4 separate regions of the Homo sapiens genome follow, and regions 1, 3 and 4 are each linked to region 2. The links come from fine-mapping of genetic effects on gene expression. A gene starts in region 2. Each other region holds a variant in brackets. All regions are shown on one strand. Distances are from middle to middle. Region 1 has its middle 140 kb from the start of MIR578. Region 2 holds the start of KLHL2 (kelch like family member 2). Region 3 overlaps KLHL2 (kelch like family member 2). Region 4 overlaps KLHL2 (kelch like family member 2).

What was found. PIP is the estimated chance that this variant, and not a neighbour inherited with it, causes the effect.
Region 1: its variant is the best candidate, but not a certain one, in a credible set for the expression of KLHL2 in whole blood (INTERVAL, PIP 0.74).
Region 3: its variant is the best candidate, but not a certain one, in a credible set for the expression of KLHL2 in whole blood (INTERVAL, PIP 0.80).
Region 4: its variant is the best candidate, but not a certain one, in a credible set for the expression of KLHL2 in whole blood (INTERVAL, PIP 0.77).

The regions. Positions count from the first base shown.
Region 1 is chr4:165,523,807-165,531,806 of GRCh38, forward strand. No RefSeq gene overlaps it. Among named protein-coding and RNA genes, the nearest start is that of MIR578, 140 kb to the left of the region's middle. The variant A/G (reference allele first, on the strand shown) is at 3,501.
Region 2 is chr4:165,204,282-165,212,281 of GRCh38, forward strand. KLHL2 (kelch like family member 2) reads left to right here and starts at 3,280. Exons shown (of 15, transcript NM_007246.4): 1 at 3,280-3,621. The coding sequence starts at 3,596. RefSeq lists an enhancer at 2,901-3,401 and a silencer at 2,932-3,581.
Region 3 is chr4:165,266,947-165,274,946 of GRCh38, forward strand. The region is part of intron 5 of KLHL2 (kelch like family member 2); the gene reads left to right. Among named protein-coding and RNA genes, the nearest start is that of GK3, 8.8 kb to the right of the region's middle. The variant C/T (reference allele first, on the strand shown) is at 3,045.
Region 4 is chr4:165,307,912-165,315,911 of GRCh38, forward strand. KLHL2 (kelch like family member 2) reads left to right here. Exons shown (of 15, transcript NM_007246.4): 10 at 2,642-2,839; 11 at 3,553-3,654; 12 at 5,327-5,455; 13 at 6,115-6,255. Among named protein-coding and RNA genes, the nearest start is that of MSMO1, 16 kb to the right of the region's middle. The variant T/G (reference allele first, on the strand shown) is at 4,810.

The DNA of each region.
Region 1 (8,000 bases), 320 kb after region 2:
GGTAGTAGCAGTGAGAATAAAAATCAAGAGCCATTGTGCACCCAGCGTGGTGGCTCATGTCTGTAATCCCAGCACTTTGGGAGGCCGAGGTGGGCAGATCACTTGAGGTCAGGAGTCCCAGACCAGTCTGGCCAACATGGAGAAACCCCATCTCTACTAAAAATACAAAAAATAAAAAATAAAAAAATGAAAAAATTAGAAGGACATGGTGACAGGCACCTGTAATCCCACCTACTTGGGAGGCTGAGGCGGGAGGATCGCTTGAACACAGGAGGTGTAGCTTGCAGTGCACCGAGATCATTGTGCCACTGCACTCCAGCCTGGGCAACAGAGTAAGACACTGTCTTAAAAAAAAAATTAAAAAGAGCCAATGTGAAGAGAGAATCTCTGTGACAGGTGACATTAGGACAGGGCCCTAGGTCCCACCTGCCAAGCTGCTACAGCAGGATAAATGAGAGTCAGGTCCAGTCCCCACTCAAACACATGCCTACTACTGTCCGCACACAGGAATATCTCCTGAATAGAGTGCAAAATTCAGTAAAGTCAGAACTAGAGTCAAATTTCTAGGTTCTCATGGGAAGTCAATTCATGAGATTTCATAATGTAGGCTGTAGCATGGGTAGCCCACTAAAAGTACAAATAGACATTCAGTTGAGTTAATTTAGCTGGGAGGCTAAAGTGAAGGCCCAAGGAGGCAGGAAGGGTAAGAAAAGTATCAGAGTGAAGGCGCGTATATCAGAACACCCAGGGCTGCAAAGACATCTCATTTACTTGGCGTCAAATACTTGGGAGTATTCATTAATGCTTAAAGTACTTAACAGTATTTTCTGCCCCTTTCTCTACCTAAGTAGGTTATAGGTTAAGGGAGTTAAAGTTAAGGCCCTTCAGAGGATGTTTAAATGACAGCTTGCATTCCTCCCTCAAGAGTATGAGTTTGTGGTAATAAACGCCCTCAGTAGATGTGTTTCTGCCTCCAATCATTAGCCTCCTTCTTGTCTTTGCCCTGTAGGCTTCATTATCACTTTACTGATAAATACAGGAAAAAGAGAGATAAAGATGACCTTTATTACATCATTTGTGGTCAATATTGGAAGCAGAGTCCTCTGGTTACATAACTTTTGGTCAGGGGTGTGTTGGGGGTAGAGGTCTTGACATCATGCTCAGGGAGCTGAGTGCGTCTGTAAAGTCTCCACCACCCATGACTTAATAAGTTGGGCATTTTATTCACTCAGATTTGGAGGCTTCTCAGCATATTCCTGTTGTCAGAACTTATATTTCAGCAGCATCGCATGATATTTCACAGTGGAGGAAAGAGCCTAGAGCTCTGCTAAGCAGCCGTTCTTTTTAGGAGCTCTCATATGCGTAAGGAATACGGAAGTGCTGTGAAGAATGTAAAGCTCTAAAAGTGTCAGTAGTTACCCCAGAGACATGGGCAGAAGCTAGGGAGTCAGGAGAATCTGTCCTCAAGTTGCTGCTTAATAACGTGCTTTGTTCTACAAGGCACTGGTGATCCTCTGCAGGGCCAGGCCTCCTAGTCAGTCATTCTTCTCCTGGCTTACTGCACTGAAGCCATTCTTTCTCCTGTTCGTTGGAAGACATTTGGGATTCATTCCTTTGACTGGAAACTAGGCTGTCCTTTTCCCCATTAGCCACTTTTGTCTTCACATGGTGGTTTTTCCTTGTCCTCTAGCTTTCAGTTTTATGTTACTTTCTCAGAGATGCCATGCCTGGCACAAAAAGTAGGCATTTGATAAATATTGACAGGATGAATAAATGATTTGTGGTGGTTGAAAGAGGTGAGTATATGAAGAATGTGGCAGAATGTCTGGTAAACAATAGGGCTCCTGAATTATTAGTTTTCTTACTCTAATGTTCAGAGTGATTCTGAAATGGTCTGTAACCACACATGAAAAGTCAGCTTTGGTTGTAATCCCAATGATATGCACAGCCATTTAAAAGGTTTTGAATATGTTTAAAAATATTATTATGTTTTAATACAAACCACACACACACACACACACACACACATACACACAGACACACACAGAGACAGAGAGAGAGAGAGACAGAAAGTCTTTTCTATATTTTTTAATGGATATTTTCTTTGTATTATCTTGCATGGAGTTCTCTGAGCTTCCTCTGTGGCCCGTTTGTTTTTATTAATATTGAAAAATTATTAATCATTATCTTTTCAAACAATTCTTCTACCTTGATTTTCTCTCTTCCTATTCAGGGGCTCCAATTACCTGTGTTTTTTTTTTTCAAAATATTTAATATTGTTTCGCAGACCTTAGATACTCTTTTCATTTTAATTTTTCCCTCCTCTTAGTGTTTTAGTACATGCAATTTTAATGACCTATCTTCAAGTTCATTTCTTTTTTTCTCTGCTATGTCTGGCCCATCAAAGGAATTTTTCATCTTTGGTATGGTGTTTTTCACTTGTTGCATTTTCCTTTGGTTCTTAAGAGTTTCTATCTCTTTACTGAAATTCTTCATCTGCTTACACATATTGTACAACTTTTCTACTAGATCATTTAACATATTAATCACAGTTATTTTAAAGTCTCAGTCTGATAATGCCAACAACTTAGGCCATTTTTGGGTGTGATTCTGTTGGCTCTTTTACATTTTGACTATCTATTATTATTTTATATCTTAACAATGGGTCCATTTTTTTTCTCGCTCTTTTGGAGGTTGTATAATTTCTGATTAAATGCTGGACATGTGTATAACAGAACAGCAGAGATGGAGGTAAATAATTTTTATGTCCAGAAATGAGTATGCCTTTTCGCCTATAAAGCCGTGTGTGCGTGCATGTATGTGTGTGTTTGTGTGTGTGTTTGGGGGGAAGAGGAAGAGGTTGATTCTGTCTAGACTGCAGGTGAGCTGGGTTTGGGCTTTGTTGTTGCTTTAGTGCAATGAAGTCTTTAAATTCCTTTAGTAGGGTACAGCTACTGCCCTGTGCTTAGTATGAGACATGGAGCAACAGAATTTCTCTCAGTATTTTTGTCCTACCTCAGATTTCAGTAGCACCCGTATGACTCTGCTATGGAGGGGATCTCTCTTCTTGCCCTTCTGTTAATAGCAGATGTCTGTTCTTTGGTATTTGGGGTAAGACTTATAGTGAAGAGAAAAAATTTCTTGGTTTTCCTGTCCCGGTTTCAGTCTTAGGGAGGCCCTATGTACCTAAATCTTAGGGATAGGACTTTTTTCAAAATTCTTGATTCTCTCCAATAGCAAACATCCTCTGCTTCCTTCTTGGTATAGGGTCTGGAATACAACTGGGCTTCCTGTGTCTTCTCAGGGGCAAAGAAACACTGTCTTGTATCAGTGCAGAGTCTTGGATAAGTGGATTTCTTGCCTATATTCCTCCCGTAACAGCAGCAGATGGCTTCTGCCAGCTGTCAGTGAAGTACGTAGGACAGGTGGGTTTTGTGCCCTTCCTTCATTGGCAGATGGATTTTATTTGTGATAATAAGGGTAATTTGTAGTGACAAATT[A/G]TTGTTGTTTTTTCATAAATTTGTGCATACTCTCCCAAGAATTCCTCAAAGTAAATACTAAGATTTGTGGGCTGACTTCAAACTTTTGGAAAAGCAAACCATTCATCCAGATCTTCCCCACAGCTCTTAACAACTAGATTGTCTTTGTAGAATAGTTATAGTTTATTTCATCTCTAGTTCTCATGGTTCTGTTTATCTTAATCTTGCCCTATGCTGCTGGGTGCAGAGTCTTAACCAACTTTTCACTTAAAAGGGGTGAAAATTACTCAAAGACATATGAATGGATGGCATTATTCTTCATTTATGGACATCTGAAAGTTGGATTATATATTGGGTACATTTAAGTTAATACAAAAAATAATTGATTTAATGTTTTTGTAGTTTTAAAATTAGATTTGTGGACTAGGAAGAAGTAGGGAACATGGGAGATTTTTCGAAGTGTAGTGCTTGGTTGTTCTGGGGAAGTTAGGTAGATGAGGATAAAAAAGTCTTCCGTGCTTCTTAGAAGGGCAAGGCAGTTCTGTCATGAAGGAAGACAAATGAAAAATTGCTTTACCACAGGCTCAACTCCACGTAATGCAGACAAATTCACATTTGCATATTTCTGGGGCAACCAAGGTTAAGATTTTTAAGATTAAGATTTTAACTAATTTCTTTTTTTATTTTTACTTTTTAAACTTTTATTTTAGGTTCAGGACTACATGTACAGGCTTGTTATATAGGCAAATTGCATGTCACAGGGGTTTGTTGTACAGATTATTTCATCACCCAGGTAGTAAGCATAGTACCTAATAGGTAGTTTTTTGATCCTCACCCTCCTCCCACTATCCACTCTCAGGTAGGCATTGGTGTCTGTTGTTCCCTTCTTTGTGTCCATATGTACTCAGTGTTTTGCTCCTACTTATAAGTGAGAACATGTGATACTTGGTTTTCTGTTCCTGTGTGAGTTTGCTTAGGATAATGGCCTCCAGCTCCATCCATGTTGCTGCAAAGGACACAATCTTGTTCTTTTTTATGGCTGCGTAGTACTCCATGGTGTATATGTACCAAATTTTCTTTATCCAGTCTACTATTTTTAACTGATTTCTTGGAAGATTGGCTTCTGGTCTGTGCTTTATCTCCTGTGAGATATTACTTTTTTTCCTGCTAATGATCTTCAGATATAGTTCTTACCTTTCCTTTTAGGTACCTACTTCTGCAACTTGGATCATACTTCTAGGTCCCAGGTTTGTGGCCATGAAAGGCTGATGCACAATCTCAGATTTAATGAAATGGTGTCATGTGTCTCTTCAATAACATCCCTGTGTGTATAAGTTTTTAAATAAAAAACATAGCACTCTTCTTTTTGTGAGAAATAAGGATTTATCAATTTGAAGAGATAATAAATGATGAGTTCCTTACCAGTTAAACCTGTTTCTAAAATAGAGATCTCTTCATAACTCATGGTCTGGCTTCTGTAAGTTCCATGCTGCTATAAACTGAATGTTTGTGTCCTCCCTCCCCACCAAATTCATACGTTGAATTCCTAACCGCCAATGTGACGGCCCTTGGAGATGAAGTTATGGGTAAGTGGTTAGGTCATGGGGGCAGAGCCCCCATATGTGTGATTAGTGTCTTGAAAAGAGACTACAGAGAACTCATTTTCCTTTTCTGCCATGTAAGAATACAGCGAAAAGATGGCCATATATGAACCAGGAAGTGGGCCCTCTCCAGACACTGAATCTTTTGGCACCTTGACCTTGAACTTCCCCTCCTTCAGAACTCTGAGAAGTAAATTTCTGTTGGTTATAAGCCACCTAGTCTATGGTATTGCTTCCTGAGCAAACTAAGACACAAGTCTATGTTTTTGGAAATGCACTGTCCTGCACACAGTGTAAATCCATGGTAAAAATTTTTAAAATGATTATCATATTTAAAACTGCTTTCATTTACCTTTTTCATACTTCACTTAATAAAACATGACCTAGAAATGATAAAAATGAAAGGCAGCATGCTTTTTTAGTAAAAAAGTAAGACGAATATGCTCTGAAAACTTTCAAAGTTAATATAAATGCAGTGATGGTCATTAGATTTCCACTGCCTTGAGCTTCACTGTGGAATTCCCCTAGCTTTCAGAGGAACTGCTGTCCAACTTGGCCTTTCAGTTGGTGTCAAGAGGTTTTGATTTCCTTCTGAAAGGCAAACTGAGTCCGACGGTGTACTTGCATTCTGTTATTCTTTCTTGCTCTCCATCATTTGTCTTTATAAGGATGTGTATTTTCCAAGGGTAGGCACACACACATGAATAGCCAACAGCTAGGCCATTCCTCCAAGCCATCCCTGCTCTCCTCCTCTTTACTTCCTGAATTACTCCAAATTTTTGTATTCTCACAACCTTGTAACTGTCTCATTGAACATACCACACTTCATTACATTTTTCTTTATATTTTTATATTTCCAGTCTAAGCTCGATGGCAGAGACCATGCCCTATTCTTTTTTACTGACAAAGCCTAGCATAGCTGTTTCTCAAGAAATGTTTGATTTACTTAAGCGCTTATAGAGGGCATTATCTATTGGAGGGAGTAGTGTAGGGGTGAAGAAATCACAGATTTCTTGGATACTCTATTATCAGTTCCAGATCTTTCATTCACTGTGTTTACTTTTCTAAACCTGATACATAAATACTAATTTGTTACCTGCAGAGCAAAGAGTTAGAGCAGTTGGCATATAACCCATTTCTACTACTGATTATGAGAGAAACACACCCAGAGAAACAAGAGAAGGCGGGCCACCCAGTCCCATCTCCTCAGAAACAAGGTATTTGAGGCCTGGCACGGTAGCTCACGCCTGTAATCCCTGCACTTTGGGAGGCTGAGGCGGGCAGATCACCTTAGGTCAGGAGTTCAAGACCAGCCTGGCCAACACAGTGAAACCCTGTCTCTACTAAAAATACAAAAATTAGCCAGGCATGGCGGTGGGCACGTGTAATCCCAGCTACTAGGGAGGCTGAGGCAGGAGAATTAGTTGAATCCAAGAGGCAGAGGTTGCAGTGAGCCAAGATCGTGCCACTGCACTCCAGCCTGGGTGACCGAGCAAGACTCTGTCTCAAAAAAAAGGAATAGAAAAGAAACAAGGTATTTGGATGTTTTAGTCAGTTTGGGCTGCTGTCATAGATTACCACAGACTGGGTGGCTTAAGCAACAAACTTTATCTATCAGTTTTGGAAGCTAGGAAGTCCAAAATCTAGGCATAGGAAGATTCAGTGTCTGTGAGGGCCCACTTTCTGTCTCATAGATGGCTATCTTTTTGCTGTGTCTTTATATGCAGAAAGAGGGCTAGAGAGCTCTCTGAGGTGTCTTTTACAAGAGCACTAATCCTATTCATATGGGTTCCACCTTAAGGACTTAATTACTTCTCAATTAATAGCAGCCCAGACTGACTGAAACATCCAGACACCTTGTCCCAAAGACTCCATTTCCTGATACTATCAAATTGAAGTTTAGATTTTCAATGTATACATCTGGGGAACACACATTTATTCCCTATCTCCAGACCAGCAGGCAAATAGACGAGTGATACTTGCTAAGAGGGAGATCTTTTGTCTATGATACACATTGAGCAGAATGTCTCTGGTTTAGGGTTGCTTAGGGTAAACAATCTTATATATTATCTATACATGTATGAGGCATAGCTATCTCAATAATGTTGCACAAGTTGCAAAAACACTCTGGGTTAAAATGAAGATGTTTCATGGCTTAAATTCTCCCCGCTATGTGAGGTGACCTGCAAACTTCATTAGAGAACTCACTTATCACTCTGGGCCTGAAAGTCTAGACGACTATGAAAAAGAAAGAGCCAGAACATGTGGGATGTCTCGTACCTGTCATTGCTTTGCTTGTGCCCCTTGATTGCTTGTATCCTTGAAATTATTAATTAAGTTTGACATTGGGTAAGTTCTTTGAGTCACATGATTCTGATTCAATAGCAGGACCTTTTGTGTCAGCTCACTACCTAGTGGAATTCTTGTGAGGATTGACTGATTTAATGCAGATCAAGTACTTAGTACAATACCTGGCACATATTAAGTGCTTAAAGGTTTGCTATTATTATGGGCACTCATTAGTAAGAGTAGTAGTAATAGTATAGGTAGTAGTAGTTGCGGCAGTAGTAGCAATGGTGATAGCGTGGGCTGAAATGACTGCTGGTTCTTTATACTGTACACACATATACGTCTATTCTGTATCAGCAACAGTAGCTGCTAGCTGTAACTCAATGTTTACCAGCTCAAAGCTGTACCTCAACCTCATTTAGTGGCTCAATTATTATTTATTACAAGCTTGTGGTTTGTCAGACACCGTTCTAAGCTCTTGAGGCCACATACTGGAGGGGGAAAAATGAAAATTTAAAAATGAACATATAATACACCTTTGCAGGTAGTGTAGGTGATATGAAGAAAATAATGCGGAGTAAAGATATAGAAGGAGATGAGGGGAGAGTTTGGAGCTAGGGAGGGGTGTGAT
Region 2 (8,000 bases):
GTAAGGCTGAATTGTATGTGGGTAATGTACTCTTTCCCAGTATACTTGTGAAGCCTACAAATGGGGGTGGTTGTGAAAAAAGAAAGGTTTGGGTTGACATTTAGCATGCTAGATGAGTCGAACCCCTTAAGCAAAGAATTATGATAGACAAAACTAACCCAGAGGAGGATGTGAGAGGGGCTATGGTTTGAAGTTATGTGCCTAGCTGTCAGACGGACACATCGTAATTTTTTAGTATTTATTTGTACACATAACACTATTTTGGGTGGGAAGATACAAAAGCAATAGAAAAAGTCCACCTCCCACCCCCCGCCTCAAAAGAGTTCCTGAAATGGCTGATGAGTCAGCCCTACTCACTGAGTTTGCATGCAGAAGGAAGTCAGGCCAAAGGTTTGGTAAAACCTAAGTCAGTATCTCCTGGCTCTAGGACTTAACCCAGTTCCTAGCAGAGTAAGGTATAACTGATGGCCACAGAAGTGTACAGAAATAATAGCAGCAACTAACATTTATTAAGTGCTTCCATTATACATTTATGTGCTATATACTTTACATCAATTATTTCACTTAATTCTTAAAACAACCTTGTAAAGTAGGAAGTTTTATTATGGCTCTGAACAGAACCATCATACAGAGAAGTTAGCTCATGCTGAAGTGTACTAAGGGTTTTTTGTTTGTTTGTTTGTTTGTTTTCTGGAACCCTTCACTAGGCTGCCAAGACACCTGCCTTGGATCTCCTTCTACTTCCCTGGTTGTTCCTTTACCATCGCCTTTGCTGAGTCCTCCTCCTCTTCTTTTTTAATGTTGGAGTGCCCCAGGGCTTACTTCTTGGTCTACTTCTTTTCTCTAGCTACATAATCTAGTTGATCTCAATACCCATCTGTATACTAACAACTTCCAAATTTATATCTACCCCAGATACATATATCTAATTGTCTACACCTATCTTCACATGGATGTTTAACAGACATCTCAAACTTACCATATCTAAATCAGAGTTTACAAATACAATCTCCACCCCGCCCTCCAATATTTGTTCTTTCTCAATATCCCCAATCCCAGTAAAGGGCAACTCAATTCTCCCCAGAGATCAGAACAAAACCCTTAGGATCATCTTTCTTTTATATGCTAATCTGTCAGCAGTTCCTGAGTACTTTACCTTCTAAACAGATTCAGAACCTGTTCACTTTTCTCAGTCACTCGGACTCTAATCCAAGCCATCCTTACCTTTCATCCCAGCTAGGCTAATCTCTTTGCTTGCTCTCTTGCCTCGCTATGCATGTTGCCCATACAGCAATCAGTCATCTTTTTTTTTAAAAAAAACTTTGTATTATGAACTTTTATTTATTTATGAATTTTGAGACGGAGTCTCGCTCTGTTGCCTGGGCTGGAGTGCAGTGGCCCGATCTCGGCTCACTGCAACCTCCGCCTCCTGGGTTCGAGTGATTCTCCTGCCTCAGCCTCCTCAGTAGCTGGGATTACAGGCACCCACCACCACACCCGGCTATTTTTAGAAGAGACGGGATTTCGCCATGTTGGACAGGCTGGTCTTGAACTCCTGACCTCAGATGATCCGCCCGCCTCGGCCTCCCAAAAAGTGCTGGGATTACAGGCGTGAGCCACCGCGCCCGGCCCATTATTATCTTTTAAAACATACACATAAACACACATAAATGATGACCACCCCTATGCACCCAACACTTAGCCTCAAAAATTAACATTTTGCAAATATTCATCTATTCACTTCTCTGTCCTTTTTTTTTTTTTTTTTGAGACGGAGTTTGTTTCGCTCTTGTTGACCGGGCTGGAGTGCAATGGCACGATCTCGGCTCATCGCAACCTCTGCCTCCCTAGTTCAAGCGATTCTCCTGCCTCAGCCTCCCGAGTAGCTGGAATTACAGGCATGCACCACCATGCCCGGCTAATTTTTTGTATTTTTAGTAGAGACGGGGTTTCTCCATGTTGGTCAGGCGGATCTCGAACTCCCGACCTCAGGTGATCGGCCCGCCTCGGCCTCCCAAAGTGCTGGGATTACAGGCGTGAGCCACGGCGCCCGACCTCTGTCCTTCTTTTTGTGGGATATTTTCAAACAAATCCCAGAAAAGTCATCCTTTTAATGATCAGATCAAGCTACTCACCACTTTCTAATTGCTTCTAATCTCAGTAAAAGCCAAGTCCTTTATCACGGCCTGCAAGGCCTGGGTGATCTGTGATTACTCCTCGCCACACCCATTCCTGCCGCCGTCCTCCTGACCTCACTCTGCTTCATTAGAGGGTCTCCCACCCTCGCGGCCCCAGCAAGCATCATCTGGAAAGCTTGTTAAAGCACACGCTGCTGGGCCCCACCCCCAGAGTTTCTGGTTCAGTAGGGCTAAAGTGGGACTGGAAAATTCGCATCTCTAACAAGTTCGCAGGTGCTACTGCTTCCAGCGGGCATACTTGGAGAACCACCAGCTGCACTGTTCTCCTTCCCGTTCCTCAACAAGGCAGGCAGGATCTTGCTTAGCAGTCTCCACGCTGCTCTTCCCTCTGCCCTAGGCATTCTTTGCATTACTCAAAGCCCCTGTTATTCCATCTCTTTAACTCATGCCTTTTGAGAGGCCTTCTCTGACCACTCTTTCTAAAATCTCTTTCCCTCTCCTCATCCTCATTTATGTTTCTTCATGGTAAGCATCACTTACTGTTTCCGTCACCCCGTCTAGATGGACAGCTCCACAAGCAGAAAGACTTGGTTTTGCTGTCACAGCCGCAGCACTAAAACCTTGCTTAGCAGGTGCTCACTTCACTTGTCCAAGGAATGGCTAGCATACTGAGGAGGGAGAGCCTGCTTCCTGCCTGGGACACTGGACAGGCAAATCACTTCTTCTTGCCTCAGTGCCACCCTTTGTAAGGACACTGGTTGGTTATGCCTACCCTTCCCATCTCCCTGGGTACAGGCACAAATGAAAAGAATAACGTGTACACGCCCGCGAAGCAGAGCAGCAAGTGGATACCGAGCATTATTACGCCGTGCGTTCGGCCGCCCTTTTTCTGCACGGAGAACCCCCTCCGCTCCCATTTTCCAGCGCCCCCGTCCCGGCGATCCAGAGACCCGCTGTGGGCGGCCGCCGCCCGCGTCCCGGCCTGCGGGCCAGCGTCTGGGCACGCCCGCCCCGCACCCGGCTGGCGCCCGCCCGCCCGCCTCCAGAAGCAGAAGCGGCAGCGGCAGCGGCAGCAGCAGCAGCAGGAGGAAGGGGAGGCGCCGAGGGAGGGGTACTCGGCCGCCGCGGGAGGCCGCATCGCAGTCCCGTCACAGCGTCGGCGCCGGCCGGGGCCGAACCCGGAAGTGGCCGAGCCCGCGCGCCCGCCGGTCCCGTCGCCGCCGCCCCGCACTCGGGCGAGCGCGGGAGCCGCGCAGTAGACGGAGCGCGCCCGGCCGAGCGGGCCATGGCCGCGGGGGCCGCCGCCGCAGGTGGTGGCGCGCGGTGAGGAGAGCGCGGCGCCCCCTCCGGGGCGGATGGAACGCGGCTCGGCGGGCGGGCAGTGCCGGCGTCCGCGGCTGGAATGGTGCTGGCTGTGTTGGTCGGTGCCTGCGTTCTGAAGCCCGAGAGGAGCCACAATGGAGACGCCGCCGCTGCCTCCCGCGTGAGTGAGCGGGCGGGCGGGCTGCGCCGCTGCGGATAAGCGCGCCGCTGCGGCGCGTGTCGCCGGCCGCGGGCGCAGCTCTGGGGACAGCCGCCGGGGCCGGCGGGAGGTGGGAGATGCGGGGCGTGACGAGGCGCTGTGCCCGCAGTCCTGAGCGGACGCGGACGGAAACTCAGCCTGGCCAGGCGGTGACTTAAAACGCTGCCCAGGATTTCTGGGGAAGGGTCTTCCCCATCTCGGGCGGATAGAAGATTCGGGGTGGGGCTGTGCATGGGTGACCCTGCAGGTCCTGTGTGTACCTCCCTGAAATGCATGGGCACCTGGTGCCGAGTTTGCCTACCCCTTTATAAGAGATCAGGCTAGGATGCACTGAGTCCGTTGAAAAAAGGAAACTGGAAAGTACCAGTCACCCGCTGTCTAAATGAATTGATCTTAGGTTGCTTGATTCCCCGAATTTCTAACAAAATTAATATCTGAGGAGCTTTTGCATCACTCTAAATGAGCGGCGGCCGTTCAGGGCATGTGACCTCTTTTACCTGGCACTGCAGAACGTTTTATCCAGAAATCAGCATCTTCTGTTTCGTTCGTACCTCGGGCAAATTAGTAGCGTATCGACCTGCCAGGCACAGGTGTCTTTTTTCTTTGGTACCCAAGTACATTCAAGATCACTGGCAACAGAATTACTTTCTAGAAATAATAGCTGAAACATTATGTAGAAGACATTATTGCATTATTCAGAACAAGGGTTTTTTTTTTAAATTTTAGTTTTTAGTTTTAAAAACATCTTGGTAAAAGTGAACTGTAAATACCCAGGAGTTTCGAAAATTTCAATTTTGGTTCCCTCTTCTCTTAGGAAGGAACAAGAGTCCTTTGAATCTGACTTTTCAAATCGCAGACAAACCTCATCCTGAAGAATGGTTTACCTTTTCATGAGAGCTTATTCATGGAGGCTTGTCGTTCTCCGGTCAAATTTGGCAAGCTTCACTCCATGCCGATTGTACCGCACCAGTCTCTTGTGGTTATTTGGCAGAATTCCAGCCAAAATAAGGATACTTGGCTTGGGTTGAATAATTTTTTGATGTTCAGCCCTTTTAGGAGAGCTAATGGGATTCTGGAACGACAGTTTCTAAAAGTGCGTTTCAGAATTTTTAGCTTGAGTGGAACAGGTCGTGGAAATCTAGGGGGTAGATAAGACTCTTGAATTGGCCTTCCTGGGCTGACAGAAGCAGGGGCTTAGTCACCTCTCGATAGCTGTGGCTTTGAGGGCTCTGAGATTTGGTCATGTTCTTCAGCAGGCTGGAGGAAGGCACCTGAACCCCTAGGAAATATGATGGTGGATGGTTCACATCAGCAGCATGAGCACACGGGGGTCTGCCCAGGCTCAGAAGCACTTAAAGCAGGATATGCTAGCTGTATTTAGCCAACATATGGTATATAATATGTAACATGTAGGTATGCTATCTGTAGTAAACCTGCCTTCTACATAAGTTCCTGCAGTTCGTTTTTACTTTTGGAACAGAGGGAGCTAAAGGAAAGAACAAGGGAATACTTAGAATGCAGGTGAAAAGAAGGGTGTGGGAAAGCAGCCTCTGGAGGGAGGGAGGGAATAGAGACACAGATGATTTAAATTGAAATAATAAAAAATAGAATTGATGTATGCATTGAAACATTGATAAACTGACTCTAGGGTAGATCAGCTAATCATAATTTTGATGACCAGCGCCATTTTTGGCATTGAGATTCCATCAATAGTGCTGGAACAATGAGAGGCTGAGATATAATGGAAAACTTGGAATGCCAGCATGGATGAAAGAATTGTTAAAACTCCTTTCAATCAGGGGTGGCTAAAGTTGGTGAGACTTTTTCATTGTTTCTGTCTATTTAATTATAAATACAAGTAGGTTTTTATTTTCATTTGGTTCTGTCCAGGATTAAACCTAATTCAAGAACTCGTTATGGTGTTATTTGCCATTCTGTGGATCAGAAATAGTTTTTTTCCTTGCCACCCCTTGGCCTGTTTGCCTCCACTCCCATTAACATCCCTCCACCATGGATCCCGTGTGCCGGATTTGAGACTTGCAGGCAGTGTCTTTAGGAAGGAACTTTACCGGGCCTCACTGCCAGAGCTGGGCTAGAACAGAGGCCAGTGGAAACTATTAGGAAGACTCAGCTTTTCATGAAGTTAGATTTTTAGCCTGAGCTTTAAGTCAAAGAAAGATGACCTGGACTTAAAGTGCCTTATGGTATGGTTGGAAGCACGGCCCCAGATTCTCTTTGTGTAAGTGTCTGTTTATTAATTCATTCAATGTGCAAATATTTGAATGCCTGTCTCTGCCTGGCACTGTGCGTGGTGCTTTTGCTTGTGTTCTCTTTTAACATCCAAATTTACATTGTTCTCAGATCCCACCTTGTTCTCCACTGGCCTGTTGGCACATTGTCTTGGAGGGAGGTCAGGCATCTGTACCCACCATTCCTGGTTCCTTCAGGATGGACTCCTTGAAATTAGCTTTTGATCTTTTGTGCTTTTTCTATTCCTTGCCTCCAACTTTCATCCTTTTTAATTCTCATATAATTAAAAATTGTCGTTGGACTATATATTTGTGCTTATTGTTTTTTGCATACTTGAGTATATGTGGCATTTAGATTCTGTTGCATTCTGGGTCTGGGTGATATTGAGACTGTGTTACATTTGCTTCTGATCAAACCTGAAAGATGTGTAACTAAAAGATGTAGCTTAGTAAAGGAATTTCAGGTAGTAAATTGAGAGATGTAGTTTAGATGTAGATTAGTAAAGGAATTTCAGATGGTAAACTGAGATGTGCAAAAGGAAATGTAAATTGACCAGCCCTGACCTCAGGAATGTATTTTACAGTCTGGCTTTTATAGTTATTTGTATAAAGGATTTTCATAATAAGTTGAAGGAAGACTGTGAGGTATAGGCCTGAGTGCATCCCTCTGATCTTCTCTTACTGATCAGTCTTCTTGGCACTTGTTTTTTTACTGGCTCCATTTTCACAAGTCGGCTTACTCTCTGTAAGCCTTGATTTTTTTGCTTTTCCTTCACAAAACTAAGCAAACATCCCTCAGATAGAACCATATCTTTTTTCAGTTGATGGTTCCACATTACTAGAGACTTGTCGTCAGAGGTGGTCATGCATAGGCAGAAAAACAACTTGTTGACCATGTTCTAAGGCATTTAGGCAGCAGAAAATTGGTTGGATTAGAGCAGAGGTTCTCACATTTTTGAATTTAACTGACCTGTAAAATTAAAAAAAGAAAAAAACAATTGAAGTCTAACAATTGCTAAGTTTTTTGTTTTGCTAAGTAAAAGAATTATTTATGAAACAACAATGATCAACTATCACCATCTTTTTATGAAAGAAAAAAACATTTTAGTATCCTTCCTCAAATATAAGGAAGAATATAATCTGACTAAAGGATTGTCTTTAAATTTAAAAAACTTAGCCTTATGAAAACTTATTACATTGTCCTCATTTTGACATAGATCAGTAAAAAGTTCACTGAAGCCTGACATTTGCAGTCCGCTGGACCGGATGACCTTTAATGTTCTTTCTAAGATTCAATTGCTGTGAATTTGGAACCTTGCTACAGGATACCCAGTATTCATTTGTTTGTCTGTTATAGTGCATTGGAGTGTATTCTTATTTTTGTTTAACTAAATGTACATTGGGCATCTCTCATATCACAGGTGAATCTCCCCAGTGATAGACAAAGACATTTAAAATATTTAGGAGTAATAATGGCCCACAAACAAGGTAATGGTGAAAGAAGACATGTGGATCAATGTGTGTTGAAGGAAGTGTTACATATAGAGACAACTTTGAGGTGCATTTGGGAACTTGAGAAGTGAATTCTGGAAATAGGTAGCATTTATGTAGTAGTTTAAAAAATTTCTGATGCTGGGAAATCACTCCACCTACTCCCTGCAAAATGCCCCAAACCTTTTGTTTCTGATGTACATGGTAGGCATGCAGTAACTATTAGTAAATGTGCTTTTCTGAAGGTGACTGTAAGTTTACTCATCTATGGCTGTTACGGATTTACACTAGTAGTGCTTATGAAGACCACTGAACTTCTTTCTTAAGATCAGGCAGGTTTTTTCAAGGTGATCCAGAGAAGGAAATTCACTTTATGTTGCATTTCTGTAGTGTTCTACCAAATCCAAATGCATTTACTCTTTATGATGAGGTAGTTTGAGTTTTTAATTTATATTTATTGAGTGCCTACTATGGCCAGATTTTGGGGATATCTCAGAAAACAAAGTTCCTTTTCCTATGATTGAAACTAATAGCAAACAAATATGTAATATTGTTAGTAGTATTACAGTAAACAAAAATGAAGCAGGATAAAAGGGTAGA
Region 3 (8,000 bases), 63 kb after region 2:
CATGAGCATGGAATGTTCTTCCATTTGTTTGTGTCCTCTTTTATTTTTTTGAGCAGTGGTTTGTAGTTCTCCTTGAAGAGGTCCTTCATATCCCTTGTAAGTTGTATTCCTAGGTATTTTATTCTCTTTTTAGCAATTGTGAATGGGAGTTTGCTCATGATTTGGCTCTCTATTATTGGTGTATAGGAATGCTTGTGATTTTTGCACATTGATTTTGTATCCTGAGACTTTGCTGAAGTTGCTTATCAGCTTAAGGATATTTTGGGCTGAGACAATGGGGTTTCTAAATATACAATCATGTTATCTGCAAACAGAGATAATTTGACTTCCTCTCTTCCTAACTGAATACCCTTTATTTCTGTCTCTTGCCTGATTGCCCTAGCCAGAACTTCCAACACTATGTGGAATAGGAGTGGTGAGAGAGGGCATCCTTGTCCTGTGCTGGTTTTCAAAGGGAACGCTTCCAGTTTTTGCCCATTCAGTATGATATTGGCTGTGGGTTTGTCATAAATAGCTCTTAGTATTTTGAGATACGTTCCATCAATACCTAGTTTATTGAGAGTTTTTAGCATGAAGGGCTGTTGAATTTTGTCAAAGGCCTTTTCTGCATCTATTGGGATAATCATGTGGTTTTTGTCATTGGTTCTGTTTATGTGATGGATTACGTTTATATATTTGCGTGCATTGAACCAGCCTTGCATCCCAGGGATGAAGCTGACTTGATCATGGTGGATAAGCTTTTTGATGTGCTGCTGGATTTGGTTTGTCAGTATTTTATTGAGGATTTTTGCATCGATGTTCATCAGGGATATTGGCCTAAAATTCTCTTTTTTTGTTGTTTCTCTGCCAGCCTTTGGTATCAGTATGATGCTGGCCTCATAAATGAGTTAGGGAGGATTCCCTCTTTTTATATTGATTGGAATAGTTTCAGAAGGAATGGTATCAGCTCCTCTTTGTACCTCTGTTAGAATTTGGCTGTGAATCCATCTGGTCCTGGACTTTTTTTGGTTAATAGGCTATTAATGATTGCCTCAATTTCAGAACCTGTTACTGGTCTATTCAGAGATTCAGCTTCTTCCTGGTTTAGTCTTGGGAGGGTGTATGTGTCCAGGAATTTATCCATTTCTTCTAGATTTTCTAGTTTATTTGCATAGAGGAATTTATAGTATTCTCTCATGGTAGTTTGTATTGCTGTGGGATTGGTGGTGATATCCCCGTTATCATTTTTTTATTGCATCTATTTGATTCTTCTCTCTTTTCTTCTTTATTAGTCTTGCTAGCAGTCTATCAATTTTGTGGATTTTTTTAAAAAACCACCTCCTGGATTCATTGATTTTTTGAAGGGTTTTTTGTGTCTCTGTCTCCTTCAGTTCTGCTCTGATCTTAGTTATTTCTTGTCTTCTGCTAGCTTTTGAATGTGTTTGCTCTTGCTTCTCTAGTTCTTTTAATTGTGATGTTAGGGTGTTGATTTTAGATCTTTTCTGCTTTCTCTTGTGGGCATTTAGCACTGTAAATTTCCCGCTACACACTGCTTTAAATGTGTCCCAGAGATTCTGGTACATTCTGTCTTCGTTTTCAGTGACTTCAAAGAACATCTTTATTTCTGCCTTCATTTCGTTGTGTACCCAGTAGTCATTCAGGAGCAGGTTGTTCAGTTTCCATGTAGCTGTGTGGTTTTGAGTGAATTTCTTAATCCTGAGTTCTAATTTGATTGCACTGTGGTCTGAGAGACAGTTTGTTGTGATTTCTGTTCTTCTACATTTGCTGAGGAGTGCTTTACTTCCAATTATGTGGTCAATTTTAGAATAAGTGCAATGTGGTGCTGAGAAGAATGTATATTCTGTTGATTTGGGGTGGAGAGTTCTGTAGATGTCTATTAGGTCTGCTTGGTCCAGAGCTGAGTTCAAGTCCTGGATATCCTTGTTATTAACCTTCTGTCTCGTTGATCTGTCTAATATTGACAGTGGGGTGTTAAAGTCTCCCATTATTATTGTGTGGGAGTCTAAGTCTCTTTTTAGGTCTCTAAGGACTTGCTTTATGAATCTGGGTGCTTCTGTATTGGGTACATATTAGGAATGTTAGCTATTCTTGTTGAATTGATCCCTTTACCATTATGTAATGGCCTTCTTTGTCTCTTTTGATCTTTGTTGGTTTAAAGTCTGTTTTATCAGAGACTAGATTGCAACCCCTGCTTTTTTTTTGTTTTCCATTTGCTTGGTAGATCTTCCTCCATCCCTTTATTTTGAGCCTGTGTGTGTCTTTGCATGTGAGATGGGTCTCGTGAATGCAGCACACTGATGGGTCTTGACTCTTTATCCAATTTACCAGCCTGTGTCTTTTAACTGGGGCATTTAGCCCATTTACATTTAAGGTTAATATTGTTATGTTTGAATTTGATCCTGTCATTATGATGTTAGCTGGTTATTTTGCCTGTTAATTGATGCAGTTTCTTCATAGCATCCATGGTCTTTACAATTTGGCATGTTTTTGCAGTGGCTGGTACCGGTTATTCCTTTCCATGTTTAGTGCTTCCTTCAGGAGCTCTCTTGTAAGGCAGGCCTGGTGGTGACAAATTCTCTCGGCATTTGCTTGTCTGTAAAGGATTTTATTTCTCCTTTACTTATGAAGCTGAGTTTGGCTGGATATGAAATTCTGGGTTGAAAATCCTTTTCTTTAAGAATGTCGAATATTGGCTCCACTCTTTCCTGGCTTGTAGGGTTTCTGCCAAGAAATCTGCTGTTAGTCTGATGAGCTTCCCTTTGTGGGTAACCCGACCTTTCTCTCTGGCTGCCCTTAACATTTTTTCCTTCATTTCAACCTTGGTGAATCTGACAATTATGTGTCTTGGGGTTGCTCTTCTTGAGGATTATCTTTGTCTTTGTGGTGTTCTCTATATTTCCTGAATTTGAATGTTGGCCTGCCTTGCTAGGTTAGGGAAGTTCTCCTGGATAATATCCTGAAGAGTGTTTTCTAACTTGGTTCCATTCTCCCCATAACTCTCCGGTACACCAATCAAACGTATATTTGGTCTTTATCCATAATCA[C/T]ATATTTCTTGGAGGCTTTGTTCATTTCTTTTCACTCTTTTTTCTCTAATCTTGTCTTCTTGCTTTATTTCATTAATTTGATCTTCAATCAGTGATATCCTTTCTTCCACTTGGTCGAATCGGCTATTGACGCTTGTGCATGAGTCACAAAGTTCTCTTGCTGTGGTTTTCAGCTCCATCAGGTCATTTAAGGTCTTCTCTACACTGTTTATTCTAGTTAGCCATTCGTCTAACCTTTTTTCAAGGTTTTTAGCTTTCTTGTGATGGGTTAGAACGTGCTCCTTTAGCTCAGAGAAGTTTGTTATTACCAGCCTTCTGAAGCCTACTTCTGTCAATTTGGCAAACTCATTCTCCATCCAGTTTTGTTCCCTTGCTGCCGAGGAGCTGCGATCCTTTGAAGGAGAAGAGATGCTCTGGTTTTTGGAATTTTCACCTTTTCTGCTCTGGTTTCTCCCCATCTTTGTGGTTTTAACTACCTTTTGTCTTTGATGTTGGGGACCTGCAGATGGGGTTTTGGTGTGGATGTCCTTTTTGTTGATGCTGATGCCATTCCTTTCTGTTTGTTAGTTTTTCTTCCAACAGGCCCCTCAGCTGCAGGTCTGTTGGAGTTTGCTGGAGGTCCACTTCAGACCCTGTTTGCCTGGGTATCACCAGCAGAGGCTGCAGAACAGCAGATATTGCTGCCTGATCCTCCCTCTGGAAGCTTCATCCCAGAGGGGCACCCACCTGTTTGAGGTGTCTGTCATCCCCTACTGGGAGGTGTCTCCCAGTCAGGCTACACAGAGGTCAGGGACCCACTTGAGGAGGCAGTTTGTCCCTTCTCGGAGCTCAAACGCCATGCTGAGAGAACCACTGCTCTCTTCAGAGATGTCAAACAGGGACATTTAAGTCTGCAGAAGCGGTCTGCTGCCTTTTGTTCTCCCCAGTTTATGTTTTTGTATGCTTTGTCGAAGATCAGTTGTTTGTAAATATTTACTTTATTTCTGGGTTCTCTATTCTGTTCCATTGGTCTACATATCTACTTATATGCCAGTGCCATACTGTTCTGGTTATGATACCCTTATATTAGTATAATTTGAAGTCAGGTAATGTCATGCCTCTAGATTTGTTCTTTTTGCTTAGGATTACATTGGCTATTTGGGCCTTTTTAAAAAAATTCCATATGCATTTTAGGATTTTTTTTTTATAATTCTGTGAAGAGTGATGGCATTTTGATAGGAATTGCATTGACTCTGTAGATTGCTTTGGACAGTATGGTCATTTTCATGGTGTTGATTCTTCTAGTCTGTGAACATGGGATGTATTTCCATTTGTTTGTATCATCTATGATTTCTTTAAGCAGTGTTTTGTAGTTCTCCTTGTAGAGTTCTTCACCTCCTTGGTTAAATATATTCCTAAGTATTTTATTTTATTTTGTAGCTATTATAAAAGGGATTGAGTTCTTAATTTGATTCTCAGCTTGGTCATTGTTCGTGTGTAGCAGTGCTACTGATTTATGTACATTGATTTTGTAACCTGAGGCTTTACTGAATTCATTTATCAAAGCTAGGCGCCTTTTGGAGGAGTCTTTAGGGCTTTCTAGGTATAAGATCATATCATCAGCAAACAGAGATAGTTTGACTTTCTCTTTTCCAATTTGGATGCCCTTTATTTCTTTCTTTTGCCTGATTACTCTGTCTGGGACTTACGGAAGTTGCTAATTTGTTTTTAAACTATATTTCTGGAAGATAAATCTGGTAGAAGTTACAATCCACCAACTGCCTGCAAGACTCTGCTTTGCATCTATGAGACTCAATAGGAATAGTTCCTGTGGAAGCTTCTGTGTTCACTGCTCCTTTAATAGGCTCTAGAACTGTAACTTCCCCAGATTTCAAATGCAGGAGCCTTTTGTCTAAACTGCTTCAGTGTGCTTACTCTGATGAGTAAGGAAGCTTTTGGTACATAGATGTGGGTAAGGGAGAATGCATGTGTGTATATATATGTGTGTCTCTGCCTGCACAGAGCATTGGAGAGTAGTAGTCCTAGAATCCGTATTTCATTTACCAAATAAATAATGGTTCAAAGTGGTTAGTTGAAAAAACAAAAACCACAGTGCTTCACTAAATCACAGTAGGTCCAATAAATTTAGACCTTATTGATTTCTATTGGGTGGCCTGATGGCCTAACTGCCCTTTAGAAAATTATTTCAGTGAAAAAATGTGATCTGAGTTCTAGGAAGCCGATTTACAGATGAGCTTTTAGAACACAACCCTTCTGTAAGTTGGGGAATGCCTGTAGTGTGTAGCACTATTCATGCAGCACTTTTGAATAGAATGAAGCATTTTATGAAAAACCAAAGACAAATATGAATTTATTGGTGTATTCCAATGCAAGCAATTCTGTTCAACTAAGTAGAAAATATTACTTCTAAATTCAGATTCCATTAACTGCTAGACTTAATGCACCTGTTATAAGTGACTTCTATTAGGAAAACCAAGAAAGCTTTTGTATTTTTAGATATTTTTTGCTGCATGAAACAATCACTATTTAACCTTTTATCTTTCCTGGGCTGCCAGTTTTCTCTATAGTGATTGATAAATGTTACTGACTGCTAATGGGGAGAGGAGGGTCAGTGCCTGGGGAGAGAATGAATAAAGTAGGATTAATGCACAGGATATCCAAACATAGTTCATATGATGTACTAGAACTCTTAGTTTTGCTTATATCAGAAGCAACTCATTTACTGTGTTTTTAGGAGATCATTAGATTTTTAAAAATCTTTCTCTTATTTAAAATCTTAAATTTATTCTAGTATACTACAAAATATAAAAAATTTTCCACCAGAATTAGAACACTTCTGTTTCTTAGTTTGTAGAATCCTCCTTTGTAATTATGCCAAGAATTTTTCATGAAAAATTATTCACTTTCAGTAAAATTATAAAGAAGCATTGATTCTTCATTTTTAATGCACTATATTTTGCATCTGAATCTAGCTTTAAAGGATGTACTGCTTTTATACCATGCTTCTGAATCTTGTATTTGCTTGAGTTTCTTAGGTTTTAGGTAACATTTTAAAACATCTTTCATTATGAAAAATTGCAAGCATGTACAAGAATAGAATAGTACTCATGATCCAACTTCAACAGTTGTCAACTCAGGGACAATTTTGTTTTAATTATAACCTTCGTTACTCCCCTTCCCTTTTTTTTATATGCAAACATTTTACTGAAGTCTAATGTACGTATAGAAAAGTACACAAATCATGTCTACAGCTTGAGGAATTTTATACATCCTCTTGTATTATCTTGAAGCAATTGTCATGCTTTACCTATGTATTTCATCCTTATATTTTAAACAAATGCCATTACAAAGACCATGCTTGTATAATGAAGTTATTTCCATATCTTTGGTGTATTGATAACTAGTTGTAATAAACTTTCCAAAATAATCCAGAATAATACTATAAAACAGTTTGATATGGTTTGGCTATGTCCCCACCCAGATCTCATCTTGAATTCCCATGTGTGGTGGGAAGGACCCAGTGGGAAGTAGTTGAATCATGGGGGGCAGGTCTTTCCTTTGCTGTTCTTGTGATAGTAAGTCTCACAAGATCTGATGGTTTTAAAAATGGGAGTTTCCCTGCACAAGCTCTCTCTCTTTGCCTGCTGCCATCCGTGTAAGACATGACTTGCTCCTCCTTGCCTTCCACCATCATTGTAAGGCCTCCCCAGCCATGTGGAACTATAAGTCCATTAAACCTCTTCCTTTTGTAAATTGCCTAGTCTTGCATATGTCTTTATCAGCAGCATGAAAACAGACTAATACGCAATTGTTCCTCATAGTGAAACTATCTGATTGTTCTTGACATTTTAAGCAAATAGGAAGTGGGGAGATAAGGAGTCCATGCAGTAAGATGTCTATAGCTCCTTTTCTACCATAAACAAATAATTGTTGTTTAGGTGATTTGTCTTTAAAGCACTCTATTTGTCCAGAAAATTTACCCAAACCTTCAAATTACTTTCAAGTCAAATCACATAGCTTGTGAAGAACTCCAAGAGGGTGACAGGACACAGTGGCAGTAAAGTTAATATTTTTCTTTTTCTTTTTCTTTTTCTTTTTCTTTTCCCTATCATAGGCAGTAGGACTTGTGACAGGCTTTTCTAGGTAGGAAAGAAAAGAAGGAAGGGAAGAAATAAATAGCAATAGATGACTCAATACATACATACATATATACATGTAAAGCAGAAGGGAGGAGAAAGAAGCTGAGGGAAAAAAGGATGGATAAGGAGAGAAAGCCTGCAGGACCTCGGGGTATTGTCTGGTCCATGGTGTGACTGCACATAAGAAGAGCACTCTCGGGCTGGGCGCAGTGGCTCATGCCTGTAATCCCAGCACTTTGGGAGGCCGAGGCAGGCAGATCATGAGGTCATGAGATCGAGACCATCCTGGCTAACATGGTGAAACCCTGTCTCTACTAAAAATACAAACAATTAGCCAGGCGTGGTTGCAGGAGCCTGTAGTCCCAGCTATTTGGGAGGCTGAGGCAGGTGAATGGCCTGAACCCGGGAGGCGGAGCTTGCAGTGAGCAGAGATCTCTCCACTGCACTCCAGCCTGGGTGACAGAGTGAGACTACGTCTCAAAAAAAAAAAAAAAAATGGAAGAGCACTCTCTATCCTTTGAAAACTCACTGGAGATTCTGGACGTAAGAACTGCTTCATTTCTTTCTCTTGCCCATTGGAAACAAGCTTTCTAGAATACATTATAATTAAATTAAATTGTACAGGTATAATGAAAAAATTAACAGTGTTCCATGGAGATCTCTTCCATGAACTCCTGCTTATTTTTAATAACATCAGTATCTTTAGGGAAAGTAAAAATGTGAGCAACCAAATGGGTAGGTTAGAGAGTGAGAGCAGGGGAGGATGTGGAATCCACGCTGCTCACCCCGAGATGCTCTCGTGGCTTCAGCAGCGTGG
Region 4 (8,000 bases), 100 kb after region 2:
GTTGTCCAAATACCCCTTATTGACTTATCTGTCTCCATTCATTTGATGAAATGCTGCCTTTATCATGTATTAAATTTCCACATTTACTTGGTTTTATTCTAAATTTTCTGTTCTCTTCCATTGATTTGTCTTGCCTATTCATGCATCAAGACAAAGCCAATTTTAGTTACTGAGCTTTATAATATGTTTTACTATGTTATGAAACTAGTGATAGGACTCCTGTCTTCTTTTATATCCTTCAGTAGATTTTTAACATTTTCTTCCAATGGTCCTCTGTGTTTCTTGGCAAGTTTATTTTTAGGTGTTTTATCTTTATCGTTACTATCTGAAATGGAGTCTTGTATGCCATTTACTAACTGGTTTCTTAATTCATATCTGATTCCTAATACAGTTCCCTTTTCATTGAGGCCATAAGTCATTTGACTCATTTTATTGCAAAATGTATTCTTTACTTATTGGGTAACTATGAATAAATTTTATCTTCATCATGCCCTCTTTCCTCTCCCTCCTTCAGATTAGAGCCAATGTCCTTAACTGTGTAAACTTGGCCAAATTTTAATAAACTGTGTAATTAAACTTCTGGGCACTTCAGTTTCCTGATAACTTTGGGAGGTTATCATACTTCTTTTAGTTCAGTCCCTTCTCCAGACCCAGAGCCTTTGGTAGGGGGCACTTCATAGATTGATTCATTTATTTTCTTCCTCTCTGTGACCTAAAATTCTCTAAACCTTGGTAAGCATACTATGTTACTTCTAAGAGATGGCATATTTGTAGTGTTATTTTGTGGGTAGAGAAAGGAAAATGAAAATTGCAATGGGCAAGATTCCCACAATGAACATTCCCTGGAGTTAGTTATGATTTTGGGATACAGGATTGTTTCATGCTGAAACATGCTGCCTGGTATGTTGCTGCTCACGAGTCTCCAGGCCCTCTTAGGATGTCTGTTAAATTCTGTGCTAGCAGGGGGCCAAAACAGGCAACTTCATCTGAACTGGAAAGGTCTTGTTGCCATATGGAGGACTGCATTTCCGTGTATTTTTACAGGGGTGGGGGAATAAAGCACCAGAGGTTAAGACAGTAAGGGGCAGAGGTACATCTCTTGCCTGATAACATCTGCAAAACATTGAGCTCGTCAAACATATCTGGTGATTCCAGTTCTCCCTACAGGGATTCAGAGAACTGTGAGCCACATTGCCTGCCCTCAGGCTGGCACAGGGACATAAACATTATAGAACTAAGAACAATAAAAATTTGAACAATTTAAAGTAATTATATTATAGACGGTACATTTATTAAACCTGAAGTACACAACATAGATGTTATTTGCTATAGGGTTCGGGAGCTGGACATAATCCCTTTTAGGCTAAAGTGGACAGGGAAGGCATCATAGAGAATGTGGAACTTTAACTGAGGATTCAGAGTTAAAGAGAACAGAGTAGATGGTGATAGGAGCCTGTCCGATTAGGACAGCAGCATGAAAAAAGTTGAGAAAAGTGAAAAGATGGTTGAAACCTGAGTCTAGCAGTCTAGTTTCTCCATTCACTGATTCCGTAATATCTCTTTAGCCCAAGGATCAGCAGACTTTCTCTTGAAGGACCAGAGAATAAGTATTTTAGGCTTTGTGGTTATATGGTCTCTGTCACAGCTTCTTATCTACTGCTATAGTGCAAAACCAGCCATATGTAAATGAATGAGTGTGGCAGTGTTCCAATAAAACTATATTTATGGATGGTGAAATTTGAATTTCATATAGCTTTTTACATGTCATGAAATATTATTCCTCTTTTGGTTGTTTTTCAGCCATTTAAAAATATAAAAACCATGCTTAGCTTATGGGTTCTACAGAAATAGTTCGCTGGACCAAATTTAGCCTGTAGCTGTAAATTTGCCGACCCCTGATTTAGCCCACTAACATGATAAACTAGGAATACGTTATGCAAATAAATTATAAGCGTATGGAGTTTCATTCTAAGAATATCCACTAGAAGATCCAAAATTGAAAGCTATGGGAGGTGAGTACAGGTTCAAGTAGTTGGAAAATAATGGCTCATTATTTAAGCTTGTAAATTGATATTTAAAAAAACCAAGAGTCAACATGGTACTTTAGCCCATGCCATTGCATTTTTTAATAACCTTAGAAAGAAGGCCAGGTGCAGTGGCTCACGCTTGTAATCCCAGCAGTTTGGGAGGCCAAGGCGGGCAGATCACGAGGTCAGGAGATCAAGACCACAGTGAAACCCCATCTCTACTAAAAATACAAAAAATTAGTTGGGTGTGGTGGCGGGCGCCTGTAGTCCCAGCTACTCAGGAGGCTGAGGCAGGAGAATGGTGTGAACACGGGAGGCTGAGCTTGCAGTGAGCTGAGATGGCGCCACTGCACTCCAGCCTGGGCGACAGAGTGAGACTCCGTCTCAAAATAAAGAAAGGAAGAAATAATAATAATAATAACCTTAGAAAGAAAGACAATTTAGTGATTGGATGTTCTTGCAAATGAATAGCATTTTCAAGGATTTATTTAATCAGGCTCCTCCTAAGAGTAGCATGTTCTGACAACAGCTATAGATTTATCAGAAAGCAATCTTTGGATATTGGTGGTAGTTGAGTTGCATGTTGATCATTAAATGCTGTACTCCTTTTGCAGGCATGGTCTACATGGCTGGACTTGTTTTTGCTGTTGGTGGCTTTAATGGCTCATTAAGAGTTCGCACTGTAGATTCCTACGACCCTGTGAAGGACCAGTGGACCAGCGTTGCTAACATGAGAGACCGGAGAAGCACTTTGGGAGCTGCTGTGTTAAATGGATTATTATACGCTGTGGGAGGCTTTGATGGGAGTACAGGTAATTTCCTTTTCATTTATTCTACATTGCTGCTAAAATTAACGTAGTAGTCATGTTTATGGAATAAATTGTGGCAACATTAGGGCACATGTGAGGTTTTTTGTGTTTTTTTTTTTTTTTTTGAGATGGAGTCTTGCTCCGTCGCCCAGGCTGGAGTACAGTGGCGCAATCTCGGCTCACTGCAAGCTCCGCCTGCCGGGTTCATGCCATTCTCCTGCCTCAGCCTCCCGAGCAGCTGGGACTATAGGTGCCCGCCACCACGCCCGGCTAATTTTTTTTGTATTTTTTAGTAGAGACGGGGTTTCACCATGTTAGCCAGGATGGTCTCAATCTCCTGACTTTGTGATCCGCCCACCTCGGCCTCCCAAAGTGCTGGGATTACAACATGTGAGGTTTTAACTGGTATTTAAAGATAAGTTTAAAATTTTATCAAGAATTTCCTTAAATGATATGAGTGGTGAGTATATAAATTTTCTTTCTTATGCATCAGTATCAGTCATCAAATTTTAAAAGCTTATAAATATCAGTAGCTTAGGTAGGAGCCTTCTGGAAAACAAGCTGTACCTGTTTTTCATGTAATTGCTGTGTTTATGTTCCACCATTTTCTTCTCTTAATTTTAGCCCAGTATAACATACCTGAAGTATTTTTCCATATATATGAACTATTGACATTTTTTAGAGAAGGAAATGAAGACTATTGTGCTTTATTATAGGTTTGTCATCTGTGGAAGCATACAACATAAAGTCTAATGAGTGGTTTCATGTAGCTCCCATGAATACAAGGAGGAGCAGTGTTGGTGTGGGTGTTGTTGGAGGTAGGTGTTGACAGTTCTTTCAGGTACATGTGGCATTTTGATCCTTGAGAGTGGTTCTTCCAGTAATCTCAACTTTAGTTTTCTGAATGGGCAAGCTAATTATCATTTTAAAAAGAAAAGTCGTAATTACTGTAAAATTTCAGTTATCCTCTTTTTAAAATTAGCTTCTCTATATAAATCAACCTATATAAAGCCTTTTCTCTCCCTCTCTATCCCCCTCCCTTTATCCCTCCTCCTTTCTCTCTGTGTGTGTGTGTGTGTGTGTGTGTGTGTGTGTGTGTTTGACTTATATAACTGTGTGTGTTTGACTTATATAACACGTGTGTGTTTGACTTATATAACAGCAGTCCCCAACCTTTTTGGCACTAGGGACTGGTTTTGTGGAAGACAATTTTTCCATGGACAGGGGTGGGTTGGGGGGATGGTTTTGGGATGAAACTGTTCCCACCTCAGATCATCAGGCATTAGAGTGTCATAAGGAGTGCACAACCTAGGTCCCTCAAATGTGCATTTCAAGATAGGGTTCACACTTCTGTGAGAATCTAATGCCGCTGCTGATCTGACAGGAAGTAGAGCTCAGCTGTAATACTTGCTCACCTGCCGCTCACCTCCTGTTGTGCAGCCCGGTTCCTAACAGGTTCCAGACAGGTACCGGTCCATGGCCTGCGGTTTGGGGACTGCTGCTGTATAAGACTGTCAACTGATTTTAACAGTTGCTTGGGGGAACAATTCAGGTGACATAAATGTGTAATTTTATATCTGGAGAAGGGCTGTTAAGGGATGGATTGCCACAGTTATTTATTTATATCCTACTTTGTCTCCCAACAGAAGTTAAGGAAGGCTCTAAGTATTATTATTATTATTTTTTTTTAATTGACTTGGGCAAATTTGCAGGTTTCCACCCCCTCCTCATCGTAGGTGTAATCTGTGCACTTAGAAAAAAACAGCTTTATTGTGATATAATCCACATCATACAATTCACCCATTTCATGTATACAGTTCATTGTGCATCCATCACTGCAATTCATTTTAAAACATTTTTATTATCCTCTAAAAGCAATCCTGCTTCCCTTGGCTCTTACTCGTATCTTACCCAACCTTCAGCAACTGCTAGTCTACTTTCTATCACTTAGAGATTTGCCTCTTCTGAATATT[T/G]TAGTCATACAGTATGTGATCTTTGGTGACTCACTTCTTTGGCTTAGGGTGATGTTTTCAAGATTTGTTTATTTATACTGAGGCATTTATTAGTACTTCATGCCTTTTTAATGCCAAGTAATATTGCATTGCATTCTGTTATTAATTTTTGATTTAACCTTTTTTCCGATTTCCTAAGATAACTTTGGTATTTAATTCTGTCTTACAGGATGTTGTTCACTTATCAAATAGTGTTACCTAAAGATATAATGAGTGTGCTATTTTATCAGATTATTGATGAAAGTATAAAATTAACATCATCAGCTATACCCTGCAGATCTTCATAACATGATTTGATTACCCCATCTGTCACCATTAGGCAAGACCCTAATATATTTCATAAAAATCAGCAGCACTTTAAGGGGAAACTCTGCTGCCATGAAGGAAAATATATTAATATTTTCTGGCTTGAAAAATTAGTGTTTTTTGTTTGTTTGTTTTTTAATAAATTTGGCTTTCTATGTGATTTTATGTGTAGGTTTGCTCTATGCTGTAGGAGGTTATGATGGAGCATCACGTCAGTGTCTTAGCACAGTAGAATGCTATAATGCTACAACAAATGAGTGGACCTATATAGCAGAAATGAGCACCAGGCGGAGTGGAGCAGGTACATGTGAACCTGTTTTAGCAACTGAAGCACAAAAATGATGGAAAATAGTTAAAGTAAAATGATTCAGTGGCATCACTTTACATTATCTGAAAATATATGATATGCTGATTTTAGTGGCACTGCTAAATGTCTTTTGAATTGTGCAGGTAATGGGAGTAATTACAAAGTAATTTTACTTTAAAATTTAATGTCTAAGTGCCATAGACATTTCTGTTTCATTTATATATTCAAGTTGTTAGCACTCCTTTTAGTTTTTTGTTTTTAGTGCTTATTGGGGAACTTGCTTAATAATCAAGTCTTTTCATGTATATTTCTTAAAATTTTGTGCTTTAATATGCGGTTATTTTACTATGGATATTGTTTTCAAAAGGATTACATTAAAGGACTTTTTCCCTCCCTGTGTTTCACCTACATGTTATTAATATTTTTATTCTGTTTGACATGCCTCTTTTTTCAGAATAATAGTTTGTTGAGATGCTTATTTAATCATCAATTGTATTGATTTCCATTTCTTAAATTGTAGGCTATAGTATCAGCTTGCTTTTATTATGAATTATAACTTCGAAAGTTTTAGTTACAAGTCATTTAAATAAACCTAATATGATATAAATCTCTTGTTCTTTTTGCCCCTCTATTTGGCTGGTTGTGTTTTATAGGTGTTGGTGTGTTAAACAATTTATTGTATGCTGTAGGAGGTCATGATGGCCCTTTAGTACGAAAAAGTGTTGAAGTATATGATCCCACCACTAACGCATGGAGACAGGTTGCAGATATGAACATGTGCAGAAGAAATGCAGGTATCTGTCAGTTTAAGGTTATAAAACTTATGTTGAATTTTATTTTAAGTTTCACTGGTATCACTCTATCAATGAATATCAATGGTATTTCCATTGTTCTTTTACTGATCTGGGTTCCCTGATAGACTCTGAACTCTTTAAAGCCAGAAACTTATGTAATAATCCTATAAAGTGAATGCCTGCCATAGTCTCTGGAACATAACAGGTTGTTGTGACACTTCAGTAAACTCATCATTTCTACTAGCTGCTACTTTTTGGTGATAAATGTGGAGACTAATTAAATTAGGTGTAGACCCTTTAAATGATACTGAATTCATTCATTCTTACAACAGATATAATTTAGTGCCTACTATGTATCTATCATACACTGGAGATCCTAGTTCTCAGGAAATTTAGTCTAGTTGAGTAGATATTTATACTAGGTTAAAAAGCTAGTTGATTATCTAAATCTAGAGGGGAAGTCTGCAAAGGTAACCCTAGCTTAATACAGTTCAGGATTTCCAGAAAAATGGAAAAACTAAAGCAACAACAATAACAACAAATAATTTTAAGAAAGTAGAGAACTTCAAGATTAGGGAACTAACCACTTAAAAAGAAGAATCAAGAAAGGGAAATACAAATGGAAAATAGACTCAAGATAGCTACATAGCCTTTCAGGAAATGCTAGGATTCTTCAAAATGCCATTATCTTCATGTCATTTCTCATAGTGTAAAATAAGTTCCTGGTGAGTCTCAAACTTACTGTACACCATTGGACACCCCCCTCCATCAGCGCTCATCTTAGTTTCTCTTTAAAGAAGGGTGATTACTAAGAGAGACTAAGTATGTGGAACTGCAGATACTGTTGGCAGCAGACCAGAATTTATAGTTAATTCTGTTTGGCCTTGCACGTCATCTAGTCAGTTGTATATGGTAATCAGTTCGTTAGATGGTAAGACCCTCAAATATGGGTCCTTAGTAGAATAAGTGACTCCAGTATACATTAAGTTAGAAAAGCCATGGTGATTTGTGCATGTGTCTTCCTGGATTAGGAAATTTAGTTGCAATTTGAGCTTTTTATGAATATTTTCTTAAAGGTTAGACTAATTTATTTTTTCTCTATATGTGTTTATTGTTTTCATATCAAAATTCACTCATTTAGGTAGAAGAATAAAGAGATAATTTGTATATATAGAGCTACCATTATCCTGTTCTTCAAAAAATTGTGTGGGAAAGGGTAGGATTTAGGAAAAAGACGTAAGTCTCTGTTGAAAAGTTGTTTCATATTTTGATTTAGACAACATTACTTGAGTTTATTTGATAATCAGGAAGAGAGAGAAATCTGAAAGCTTACTTTTCAGTTTGTTTTTCCTTCTCAATCAATGATGTTTATTTTCTATGCAAATAACAAAATTTGAATTATTTACTTCTATAATTTACAAGATACAGTATAATCCAATTGAGCATATATTTTAAAATTATTTAAGTTCATAAGAGTATTTTAAAATCTCACCCTCATTCCATATTCCTGATAATCTGAAACAAACTTCTGATAAGATCTGTTCAGCTCTTCCTTTTTAATAACCTAGGCTAAGGACCTCATCCAAGCACCTAAATTATTGGAAAGAAAGAACTAAGCTGGCAAAGAGTGGAGGACATGTATTCAATGTTAAGCGGGGAGAGGTGAAAGCATCCATATAAATTTGAAATAGCAAGCAGCTTACAAGCCAGATTTCAAAAGTTTTCATAAGTATGGTAAATTATGA